Linked DNA regions of Homo sapiens. The protein of the gene in region 1 purifies or fractionates together with the protein of each later gene. This does not show direct contact. Each region holds a gene or a part of one and is shown in the gene's direction. Other genes may lie near its edges.

Region 1 (3,718 bases):
ATTTTGAATAGTAGATTTTTACTTATAATTTTTGCTTCAGTCCTTCTGATTGAAGATGGCAAATGTTAACTAAACAAACAAATAACGATAACAATAAATTTTTAATTTATATTTTCCTTGGAAAAAAAAGAGCACGGATGCTAGTGAAAAAAAACAGTCAAGTAGCATTACTCTAGAAAAGGCACATAATAAAACCAGCTGCTGAACTTTAGGGATGAAAATGAAGGAGTCTTCTTTGATTTTTCCTCAATTCTTCTAACCAAAGCCTCAACTGCAATTTTTTTCTCTTCAATCACTGATAAATACATAAAATCTGACGTCCTGTGCAGTTATGATCATTTTAACTATGTGTGATAGAAAAAAAACACTATCACCCAAAGTTATAATATCTGAAATTTGAAAAATGCTTTTGCATAGATTTACATCCCACAAGAATCTTATGCAGTAGGTTATACAGGCTGTAATCTACGCTAAAAAACTTACTGAAGTTTTCTTGGCGAGTTCCTGAAGATGTAAAACTGATACTCAGGCTTTGTGATTCTAAATTTAATTATCTTTCCAGGAGGAATGGATGAACTTATGGTTTAGTGTTATGATTGCATTTATCCTACTATTTGACAATAAATAGTTTTCACAGATCTTCAGAAAAGCAAACTGTTTGAATCTGCAAAGAAATCCCATATGAAGGCTTAATACCATAGCCTGATTCTGCATTTGTAATTTTCATACAGGTAGTGTTCTACAACCAGATGCATCACCTTCTAAAACTGGTACATTAACCTCAATACCAGTTACAATTCCAGAAAACACCTCACAGTCTCAAGGTATGATATCTGTGTGCCTGAGTGGAAATCTGCTCTACCTGACCCTTTCTTGACTGAAACCCTAACAATCTTGACTCACAAAACAGAGCTCCTTCAGAATGAGACTGAATCTTTTGCACTTGCAGCATCATACCTACAAATCATGGCTGTTTCCTTAAATGAGGGTGGAGGGAGGACTGCAAGAATTGGCACACATTAACCAAAAGTGACTTGTTTTTTTCTTTCTTAAAGTAATAGGCACTGAGGGTGGAAAAAATGCAAGCACTTCAGCAACCAGCCGGTCTTATTCCAGTGAGTAACAGCAATGCCTTCATTCATGGCAGTAGATATGCAGAATGTTTGAATGTGACCAGTAAAGGAGAGGAATCAGATTATGGGCAGCCTTTTCTCAACTTTACTGAGCCTGCAATCCCATTACAATCCCATCTAACTGCTGCCTGCTCTGAAAATTTCCCACAAGTGAGTCTTAATGACAAAAAAAAAAAAAAAGAAAAGAAAGAAAGAAAGAAAGAAAACAGAAGAGGAAAAAAAGCACAGTTTGGCAATTTTTTTCTTAGTTTAGTGTTTAACAATTACGATCAAGGGCCAAGGATGACTCGATGGGACTAGTTTCAGATAAGTCAAAATGCACAGGTAGAGGTCCCCATAAAAGTGAATTATTTCCAAATTATCAGGTTGTATACCCTGAATATATTTTATTTTTGTCAAGTAAATAATTAAAATAATAAATAAATTATATCAAAAAATGAATTGTTTGCCTTCATAGAACATTAAAAACGGCCTTTAAGAAATGTTCCATTTTAACTAAAACCTATATATGTCATATAACATTTATGTGTGTGCTAAGACTGAATACAGAATATTAAATAACTTCCTTAGTAATTAAGAATAAAAAGACAATATTCAAAACTGTTATTATAAAAGGCTCTATTAAGTTTAGTTAAACCCATTCCATTAAATAAGTCATCATAGAAATTACTGACCTGCTGATTCACGGCATCTTCATTTGGGAGGCAATAATGATTTCACCTAAGGTCTATTATGAAATCAGCAGAACTTACTTAAAACAAATATTTAACTCTGACAATGGAAGTGTAAACCATCCTACAGATGAATTGGAGAGTAAGTCTCACCCCTGATAAATATATAAGGAGTACATATGAAAGCAAATATGCTAAACTAATAGTCATCTTAATTTCCTTTAGTTGTGTGTCTATGACAGCTCTCTTGCTTTTATCACTGTACTTTTAACCTTGGAAATAACCATCAGAAAAGAAGGAAAGAAGGAAGGAAGGAAGGAAGGAAGGCAGGCAATACTCTTCCTCTTAATACAAATATGAAAAACTCACCCTAAGTTACTGCAGCAACATCACTCCCCCAAACAGACACACATACACATCTCTCTTGAATCATGTTCATTTTCAAGAATCATCTTCACTGTGGTATCTACTTACATTATTTTATGCCTTTTCTAGTTTTAAGGTATTATTATAGAAAGAAATTTGTGAGTGTTTTAGAAAGCCAGCATTAGGACTAAAGCAATCCCCGTTGGGTTATATATATTTTGGTAACTTCATTATAAAGTACTAAAAAATGTAATGAGTGAATGAGGATTTAATTATAATCTAGAGTACATCTTCTGCTTCTCCAGTCTCCCATCTCCCCACTTCTTCAGTCTCCAGGAAGATGGGGGCACTCTCTCTTAAGGTTGGAATTTTGTTTCAGAAAGGTTACAAGACTGACATCAAGTGGTTATGTCAAAGATGACAACTAGAGCAAACCCCATGAATCAGAGGAATCTTTGCCTAAAATATGTTTTTAATAGAATGATATTTAAAGAAGAAAGGAAGTACTCATGCTTTGGCTCACTTACCAAACTATCGCTGTGAAATTCAGTAGCCACTCTAATTGACAATGTCTCCAATTCTTTTTAGGTATTATTTTGCCGGTGGTTATTGCTTTGATTGTAATAACACTTTCAGTATTTGTTCTGGTGGGTTTGTACCGAATGTGCTGGAAGGCAGATCCGGGTAGGTAACAGTGTTTTGTTTTGTTTTCCTGAAAGAAGAATGAATGCTCAGTTTAAACTTGATTTTAAATTCTTAAAGGGAGAGAAAAGTTATAGAAAGAAATGAAATGTCATATTTCCTGATCACAGAAACAAAGGACGAAGGGCACAGACACCCACTGAATGCTAGTGAACTGCAGAGTGGGAACTAAATACTATGAGTAGATATTATCAAATATAGGGAAATTCTTTTTAATAAAATAGCCCAAATTTTATGGGTGGTCAGGGGAATATGATAGTAAAGAGGGCATAACAATGACATAACTTGTCTATGGTAAAGATTAACTCCATTTCTATGTAACAGAAAATAAAGAGGGAGATTGCTAAGAATTCAGCTCAGGGGCCCATAATCTCAAAAAATGTCCCGTGACTAATTTCCCTCCTGGGAGACACACCCAACGAAAGTATCTTCCAAGACCATGTTATATTTTTTATCCTTTTTAAAAATAAACTTTCTATTTTAGAGTAGACTTAGAGTTACAGGGAAGTTGCAAAGATAGTACAGTGAGTCACCATACCTAGTTTCCCTTATTCCCTTATTAAGATCTGATGGTATGTTTGTCACAATTAGTGAACTAATACTGATAAATTATTGTTAACTAAATTCTGATTTCTTTTAGTCTTTACTCAGTCTTTTTTCTGTTCCAAGAAATTTGCCTCTTCTTTACTCAACCTTCACCTAAATACCCCTTCAACTCCCATGGCTCAGCTGTCATGTTACCGTAATTGCAAACTATCTTTCCACTTCACAGCCCAGCCCTGGTCGTATAATGTAGTAGCATGTATCCATGCCCTCATCCATACTATTCCTTCTGGAATATCCAGC
Region 2 (4,272 bases), on another chromosome or scaffold:
AAGCCTCCAACACACCCTCCCTCCCTAAGGAATGTGGGCCCCGCTTTCTGGGCCTGCCAGACCGAGCGCCTACCGCTTCCTCCGCAGGCAGGAGCCGGGACGCTGCCTTCACCCCACCCTCCGCCAGGATCCAGTTTCAAAGTCACCTGAAAGCCATTTCCTTCCGCGCCTGCCCCGCCTCTCCCCTCCCAGTAGATCACCTGGAGCTTGCATTTGCCCAGAGCAGCATTTTGGGGCGGGCGCTTGTTTTGTTTTAAATGATACCTCTAGAAATCGTTTGCTGTACACCTGGATAACAAATATACCCCGTGGTTCTAATATCAGCGTCCTATTCCTCCTCCCAAGGAACTAGTGATAGCGCCTAACCAGTGGGCGTTGTTCCTCTTCCGGAGCCCCACTCTGGGCTTCCCTCCTCCGGGCTTGTTGTTCTTCAGGATCTTTACTGATGAATTATTATGGGTTTTTGGATTTATGCTCTTGCTCAAAATGTATTGAATGTCTCTGTCCCCCATCCTCACCCCTTGCCCCCCAGTTTCCAGGTGTGTACCTTTCCATGCATACACGGTCATATACAGAGACATAAAGACAAACGGTTCTCTTTGTTTTATAAAAACGGGTCCTCTATCATCCAGGTTTCTGTGTTTTATTTTTCCTATTTAACAGTTCCTTGTGGAGTTGCCTTCACGTTGTCTCCTTTATCTCTTTCCCGTCAGCTTCTCAGAGGTCTGCATTTACCACTGTAAAGCGTCACAGGGACCGAGTTATGGTGAGGAATTCAAGACATGCCTTTCTGACTTGGAAAAGCGGACACGGCCGGCTCTGGTAGGATTAGGATCCCCAGATCGATCCCGGCTGGTCACTCACTTGGGAAAGCCCTCAGCCCCCTTCGCAGGGCCCGGTGTTCCCTGTCCATACAAGGGGTACGTTCTGGCAGTCCATGCTGTCTCGGGAGGCGGTGATAGCAGGTCTGTGACACCAGGGTGACCCCACCACGTGCGTCTTGGTATCCTAGAGCATCTAGGCTGCCCGGGGGTGCGCGCTCATCACCCTGCGGGCGTTAATCGTTAACCGCGCCCAGGCCTCGCCGCCGCCGCAGCCTTACCCCGGCTCTGGCTCGCCGCGCCGCGAAGGTTGCCCCGGCCCCCGCAGAGCCGCCAATTGCTGGACTGCAGCCGCGAGCTGGAGTCTCCACCCACAGGAAAAATTCCTGGCCCGCCCCTCCCTCGCTCCCTCGCTCCCTCGCTCCCTCGCTCCCTCGCTCCCTCGCTCCCTCGCTCCCTCCTGCCCTCCCGCTGCAGCTCCGGCTCCGCTCGACTTCCTGCCGGGCGCTGGCAAGCCGCGCGCTGCCTGGGGTCTCCGGGGGCCGCGCTTGCAGCTGGCCGAGTCCGGGCCAGCTGAGGGGCTGGCGGTGGGCGGGAGCGGTCGGCGGCCTCAGCCCCTTCAGAGAGCGACTTTCAAACTCGCGCCCGCGTCGCGGCAGCACCTGGGCAGCCCCGCACGCCGTGCGCGTCCCGAGCCCGCGGGGCAGCTACCGCTCGGTGAGTGTCCCCTGATTCTCCTCTCTCCCCTCTTATCTCCCTGCATTAGGCTGAGCGGCGGTGCCGGCAGTCACGCTGGGGCCCCAGTCCCTTCGCGGCCCCCGTGCCAGCCCCCTGCGGGGTGAGGACCGGGGCGACCGAGGAGGGCCTGGAACTGTGTTGGCTGCTTCCCGGGCCACCCTGCCGCAGAGTGCGCGAGCGCAGGAGGGTCGTATGGGGAGACTTTTTCTGTCTTTTTTTCCCTCCACTCCGGAAACAAAAGGGGCAAATGCGCCGGGCGGCTCCAGAGAGGCTCAGTTTGAAATCCAGGAAGCCCGCGAGGCCGCGCGCGCCCGAGGGCTGGTGTTTGGCTGGAGCTGTGGGCCTGGCGGGTGGACCCTTCTGCGCGAGGACCCGAGCCTCGGCTCCTGCCAGCCCCGGAGGCGCCTGCAGCCTGTTCCGGGTTGGCGCCGCACGGTGCTCGCTGTTGGGAATCTCGGCTACCTGTCCGGCAGGGAGGAGAGTGGGGGCCAGAAGCGGGGAGCGGAAAGCCCGGCCACCAGCTGCCTCGACCTCGTCCACTCCTGAAGTCGGTTTGGTTCTTCGCACCCCTACACCCAGCCCTTTGGTTTGGAAAGCCAGTATAAGGCGTGCAAGCTTAAATTTTTAAGGCGTTAAATAGCTACTTTGACTCTTCGGGGCGCCTTTGGAACACAAAAGGAAGAACGGAGGGGAGAATGGAATGGTTGGAGGCTGGAGAGGTGTGGCTTTTGGGGAGGGTGTTGTTAGAGGCCGCGAAAGAGTTTGATCCTCGAGGTCACTCGCTAATCTGTTGGCATATGTAGGTGCCTGTCCCCTGCTCTGGGGGCCCCAGCAGGAGACCCACACTGCGTTCACCTTACGGGGAACCCTGGAGTGGGGGTTCCCAGAGTCTCCCCAGCCGTGCCTCTGCACGCAGCCCAGTCACATGGCCCTTGCTCAAGAAATAATAAGCAGGGAGGGCAATGACAGTCCGGAGCGGGGGAGGGCCTCCCCGTTGAGCACATCGGCCACCTCGCCTTCAGCAGTGTGGTTTTCCGGGCCATCCTTTGTTGGACAAGGATGGGATCCTGAGTGATTAAACCCCAGCTGTTCCCCAGGAGGAAACTAGGGAGTGAGAACCAAAAGTGTACATTTATCTCTCTGTTATACATCTCTCCCCTGTGGTTCCGGGCTGGCCCCCTGGATGCAATGGCCTCACTTCTCCTTTCGACACCTGCTGTCCTCCACTCCCTTCCTGGAAGATAGGACAACCCATTAGCTCCCTGGGTAACTTGCCCTGGGGATGGGGCAGGAAGTTGGGGGAAGAGGTACCCAGAGGCCAAGTCCTAGCTGCTGAGGGAGTGATTTGTTGAAGAGCTGCTTTGGGGGCTTTTCTACTGCCTTTTATTAGAAGTGGCATGGCAGGGGAAGTGGAAAGAGCACTGGCCTGATAGTCCAGCACGGGTTTATGCCTGAGTTTTAGACCTGGCTCTTCTGCATAGCATGGAAGATTGGTAGAGTTGAAGAGTGCGAGTCACTTGGGCTGGGGGGCCCCTTGGATTAGCCTACTTCATTTACTCGTGAAGGCAGCAGAGCCCAGAGGGGTGAGGTGATTTCAGCCTTAGACCCTATTGGCCAAGTAGAAACCAGAGGTCAGATGTCCTCATTGTCTGATCTGTGTTTTCTCCAACATGATCTGGCCAATTCACTTATCTTTTCTGACTCAGTTTCCACATAAATAAAGTGGGATTACTTGCCTGCTCTTCCTCATAGGAGCTGTGGTGAGGATCAAAGGAAGCCTCATTTGTGGAAAGTGCTCCATAAACTCCTGTTAAAACTAAAGGGCTCACAGTGGCTCGGGAGGGAGTCTCCCAAGGGTTTTACAATTTGCTGGCTATGTCCCACGTGTGTGCCACAAGGAGACGTTAGATACCAGGAGCCATTGTTGGATGTTTAAAACACCCTGGTCTTAATATCTCAGCCCCAGAGTAAACATTTGCCTTACCAAATCCGCAGCTATCCCACGGTCACTGTTTACGCTGGAAGAGGCCAAAGGCCACGGCCTGCGGGATGACCAGGGCTGGAGGGGGAAGGCTCCTCTGTTGCAGAGGTATGCCTTGCCCGTTCTCTTCTCCCAGCTCCCAGAACCTTGTGAAGGCTCCAGCTGTAAGCCAGGGGTGCTGCCACAAGCCCAGGCCGCCCTGGCCTTGGAGGGTTAAAAGTGAAGCCCTCTGGCTATTCTCTGTTGTGTTGGGGGTTGCAGGGACTCTGGGAGGGTGTTGCTTTTGCAGCTGCACTGAGGGCTGTCTTCAGCTCCTCATCTGTGCCCCCTCCCCCATCTCAGGCCGCCCCTCTGGCCCAGGCCACTGCTCTGTCCCGCCTCTCTGGCCAGCTGCAAGTCCACAGGCCTTTGTTCCGTGGCTGCAAACCCGCCCTACTCCATCCTCCCTCCTCAGCAGAAGCCCTCCAGCGGGGGCCCTGGCAGCTGGAAATCACAACTGCCAGGAGGAAGGGGCTACTGGAGCCCCCAGCGGACCTGGCAGATCCTCATTTCCTCTTGTCAAGCTCATCTGGGCCCCACAACTCACCTCTGGCCAGATTCCCACACCGTCTTTTCTCATCTCTCCTTTCTTCTGCTGAATGGACGGATCACCTTTTCCTCCCAGTACTCATGCCCCTTAGTTCTATTTTAAAGTACTCTATTCATTCATTTAATAGTTAAGGAGTTAGCACC
Region 3 (4,246 bases), on another chromosome or scaffold:
CTCCCAAAGTGCTGGGATTACAGGCAGGAGCCACCGCGCCCGGCCTTTTTTTTTTTTTTTGGAGACAGAGTCTCATTTTGTCACCCAGACTGGAGTGCAGTGGGATGATCTCTGCTCACTGCAACCTCCGCCTCCTGGCTTCAAGTGATTCTCCTGCCTCAGCCTCCTGAGTAACTCAGATTACAGGTGTGTGCCTCCACACTAGGCTAATTTTTTGTATTTTTAGTAAAGACGGCCTTTTGCCATGTTGGTCAGGCTGGTCTTGAATTCCTGACCTCAAGTGATCCACCCGCCTCGGCCTCCCAAAGTGCGGGGATCACAGGCATGAGCCACCGCGCCCAGCCCAGAAGGCCTTTTCAACATCCCTGAAATATAACCTGAGCACCGCTGTCTGCTTAGGGCCTGAAGGTGGAAGTGGTTACCTTTATTCTTTATCTGGATGTCATTTCGATTTTTTTTTCAAGTGCAGTGAAGAATTAAAGATCTCGTCCACCAAAAATACTCCGAGTGTGCATTTCGGGTTTTAATATGGTATTGTCTGATGGGTTTGACAGGCTGGCGGTCCAAGTTGAAAAAGGTCTGTGGGTGTCTAATAGTCAAAGATGCCTTTATGAAGCTTTAGAAAGACCAGATATGGTTTGCCTTCAATTAAGAAAAAGGTGGAATATAAAGATATTTGTACTTATATAAATATATTCCTTCTTTTCTTCTCCTCCTCCTCCTCTGCCTTCAACTTTCTTCTTCTTCTTCTTCTTCTTCTTCTTCTTCTTCTTCTTCTTCTTCTTCTTCTTCTTCTTCTTCTTCTTCTTCTTCTTCTTCTTCTTCTTCTTCTTTTTTAACTCTCCTTTTAGAGTTAAAGACTGGAGCTAAGAACAGGGGAGCAATAGACAGATGAAGTGTTCCCGGATTGCTGCCCCACGCTCTTTGTAATAAAGGAAAACTTGGCCAAAGGTCAATGCTTAGGGTAGTAGAAGATATGTAGTGGCTTGGCTTCTTGACTGGAAACTAGGACGGGTAGAGTAGCTGAGAGAAGTGGGCCCCAGAGCAAACTGGTTGCGGGTAGGGGGAGCCAGCTTCAGCCCGGTAATGAAGCCCATTTCAGCCTCATTCCTTTCCCATGGCGGAGGCAGCCTTCCTTCCCCAGGCCTGGCTGGAGGTGGAGGCAGGCCCAAAGTTAGGGGGTCAGCTCGCGCACCTAGGGCCGGGAGACAGACAAATTCTGGCGGAAAGTTGGCAGCCACGGTCCCCCTCCCCTGCTTTTCTCCTCAACTCTCCACCCCCACTCCGGGTGATAACGGCGGAGGTGGGGGGTTGGGGGAACTGGCCTTGTGTTTTGGAACAGCTGCAGCCGGCGCTGGGCCCGCCTGGAATGCGGGAACAGGCTGCACACCAGGACTTTTATGGAAACTTGCTGCTGGAGACGGCGGCGGCGGCGGCGGCAGCGGCAGCCAGAGGACTCCCAGCGGCTGGAGCAGAAGTGTTAGCGGCCAGAGCTCCCAGACCCCTACCCACAGCCAGGCGGGACGCGCACAGTCCCTCCACGCGGAAAGAAGTACCTTCGCCGGTCACCGGCTCCTGCAGGGTGAGAAGAGTTGGGGGAACGTGGGCTGGGGGGAGTGGAGACGGAGGTGTCGGGTCCCCTGGTGGGGGCGGGGGCGGGAACGGCGGCTGCAGAGAGGCGCTCGGGGTCTGCGGCTTCTGGCCGTGCTCCGCTGCAGCTCCGGAGGGCGCCGGGCGCCATACAGCTGTGGTCCGCGCTGGCCCCGGCCCGGGCGAACCCTGCCTTGGAGCCGCATCCTGCGGGCTCGGCGGGGTGCCTACCAGGGGCTGCCCCAGGGTCTGAAAGTGTCGGCCGGCCTTGGGCTTCTGGTTGCAATGTCTTTGCCCTGCTCCCCTGCGCCTTGTCGGCTGAGTTTCGGGTGCGTTCCCTACTGTAGGGAGGGAGCCCTCTGTGAGCGGAGTGGGTGCCGATCCCTCGGCTGAACCCTTGGGGTCCTTAGGGAAGTTCAGTGCCGTCCCCCACCACTTGCCCCAGCCGCGGTCTCCGTCTCTGCCAGCAGTGCCAGTTAAGAAATCCTTTCTGATCGGTCTCTGTGGAAGATGGGGAGAAATATGATTTAACAGCCTATTACTCCCCCCCCACACCCCCGCATATCCCCCCACTCCTGTCTCCAACCCTTTTTTTTTTTTTTTTCGTGATTCTGCCCGAGGTGGGATGCTGGGGGTTGAGCAACTAGGGCTGGAAGTTTACGAAGTTTACGTAGTTTAAGTGAGTGAAGAATGTAGTCACCTCTTGAGAACTCCCTTTGCCTATATGCTTTTGAAAACGCCAAACCATTCCAGCTGTTTGTAAATTGTGAAACGTTCTACAAATGCATTAGCATTGGCATTTATAAAGAAAATGACGAAGTTGAGAGGTTATAGTTGGTTACTGCAGTGACTTAGAGATGCTCATTTTATAGTTATTAAAGCACAACGTGAACCAAGTTGGCAGAGAGATAACAAGGTAAAAATAGCATAAGGATATGTCCTAACAAAATGTCCTTGGTGAAGACACAGGTAGAGAAAAGAAGCCATAATAAAGAAATTAGTTCCCTGACCAAAACAACGGGAATATCATTCATCGTTAAATTTTGTTAATGAATTCATGTAGCAGCGGCCCATTGGCCTTCGAGTCACAACATAACTATGTCTTAGGTAATGTGATTAAATAAACTTAAGTATTTATACTTAAGTTCATATCTTAGTCACACGTTATTTATATCTTAGTCACACGTTATTGAGTGGACCACATAATTTCCCCCGCTAAACATTATCCTTTACAGGTTAAACTGCTGCAGTTAGAAAACTTTGTCTCAAATTCTTTTGAGTTTGGGGTATTGTTAAGAAAAAATGCATAATTAATCAAATGAGAGAAAGGTTTTTTGGGGGGAGGTATAATTTGTATAAGTAAACTTTGATTAACCAATGTAGCTGTTTAAGTTTCTTCTTCCTTACAATTAACACCGTATTTTTGCAGATATTTTATATTTTGACTAATGCTTCTGAGGAACAATTTAAAGAAAAATGCATGCAATTATGTAGTTTATCTGCAATTCCCTTAAAGAATTCTAAGCTAAAACCACAACAAAATTATTTTAAATCCAGTTTTCCTCATCATAGTTACAATGTAATCCAGTTTTAATAAAAGATTCATATTTTAAAATCCATTTTCAATTGAAATGTAATGAATAGCAATTGTTCCTGCTCACCTTAAAATGGAATTTGTGCTATTTTTGAAAATTTGACATGTAAGGCTGATCATTGTCAAAATGTATGTCATCTTGAGATGACTATATTTAGCATCAACAAAGGAATGCATTATCTAGGTTTTTGAACAGTCTTTTTCCCCTGAAATTTCACTTGAAGTATTTAGGTTAGGGTTTCATTTTTGAGCAGAATAAAAACTAAATATGCATATTTGGAAGACATTAATTGGGGATTCAGATTGCTTAGAATCTGAGCGGCCTATAATGACATACTTCATTTATTAAAAAAAATACCTGTTATCTTTGAAATACCCTAAAAGACAAAAAAAAGGGGGATTATTTAAATATGAGAGTTGTGCACACCTAAAAGAAAGAAAATAATGCAGTGAATGTGGAAAAGTATGTAACAGACAGGTAAAAGTCTAAACGTTTTTATAGAAGAGAGGACTGTTATTTTATAGTTATGTAGGCCACACACACACAGAACATCTTGGTAGTTTATAATTTGGAGAGAAAATGATTTATAACATTCTTAACAATTTCACATATTTCTGTTCTTATTTAATCAATCTGCGGTCCATATCACCTGTGTAGTTTCTTTCATGTTCTCTTTCTGGGTTTATAATTGCATAGTTACATATTATATACATTTGAAATGGCTACATTTTCCTTTATTATTTAAATATTCAGTGTATAGTTTGGCTTAATTTATAGTAGTTTACTTTCTATACTCCAGGGTGGGTGGATTTGTACCCAGAAATCCACCTTAAATTTTAGTTTAATTTGTATTATAATGTTAATACACCATGTTATATTTATGGTTAAAAATTATGGAGAATGGAAAAAGGGGCTCTTGTAATCTGACACTCTTACTGTTAGGATTTTGATGTATTTCCTTTAAGTCTTTTTCCCATGCATAGAACTCTTTCTTTTTGCATTGACATATCTCAATAAAACAACATGTGAAAGCATCCCATGCAGTGTCTGCCATCCAGTAA

Evidence for each region.
Region 2: the proteins of EMCN (region 1) and PLEKHG3 purify together in Homo sapiens (affinity purification with mass spectrometry; one large-scale study listed by BioGRID and IntAct). This does not show direct contact.
Region 3: the proteins of EMCN (region 1) and NEXN purify together in Homo sapiens (affinity purification with mass spectrometry; one large-scale study listed by BioGRID and IntAct). This does not show direct contact.

Annotation. Positions count from the first base shown.
Region 1 is NC_000004.12:100,420,418-100,424,135, reverse strand, and holds part of EMCN (endomucin isoform 1 precursor), read left to right. Parts: intron 1-731; coding exon 732-824; intron 825-1,055; coding exon 1,056-1,115; intron 1,116-2,697; exon of another isoform or gene 2,698-2,758; coding exon 2,759-2,854; intron 2,855-3,718. UniProt on the Homo sapiens protein: Endothelial sialomucin, also called endomucin or mucin-like sialoglycoprotein, which interferes with the assembly of focal adhesion complexes and inhibits interaction between cells and the extracellular matrix.
Region 2 is NC_000014.9:64,703,167-64,707,438, forward strand, and holds the start of PLEKHG3 (pleckstrin homology domain-containing family G member 3), read left to right. Parts: upstream 1-1,257; 5' UTR 1,258-1,538; intron 1,539-4,272. UniProt on the Homo sapiens protein: Plays a role in controlling cell polarity and cell motility by selectively binding newly polymerized actin and activating RAC1 and CDC42 to enhance local actin polymerization.
Region 3 is NC_000001.11:77,887,178-77,891,423, forward strand, and holds the start of NEXN (nexilin), read left to right. Parts: upstream 1-1,446; 5' UTR 1,447-1,582; exon of another isoform or gene 1,583-2,091; intron 2,092-2,290; exon of another isoform or gene 2,291-2,362; intron 2,363-4,246. UniProt on the Homo sapiens protein: Involved in regulating cell migration through association with the actin cytoskeleton. Has an essential role in the maintenance of Z line and sarcomere integrity.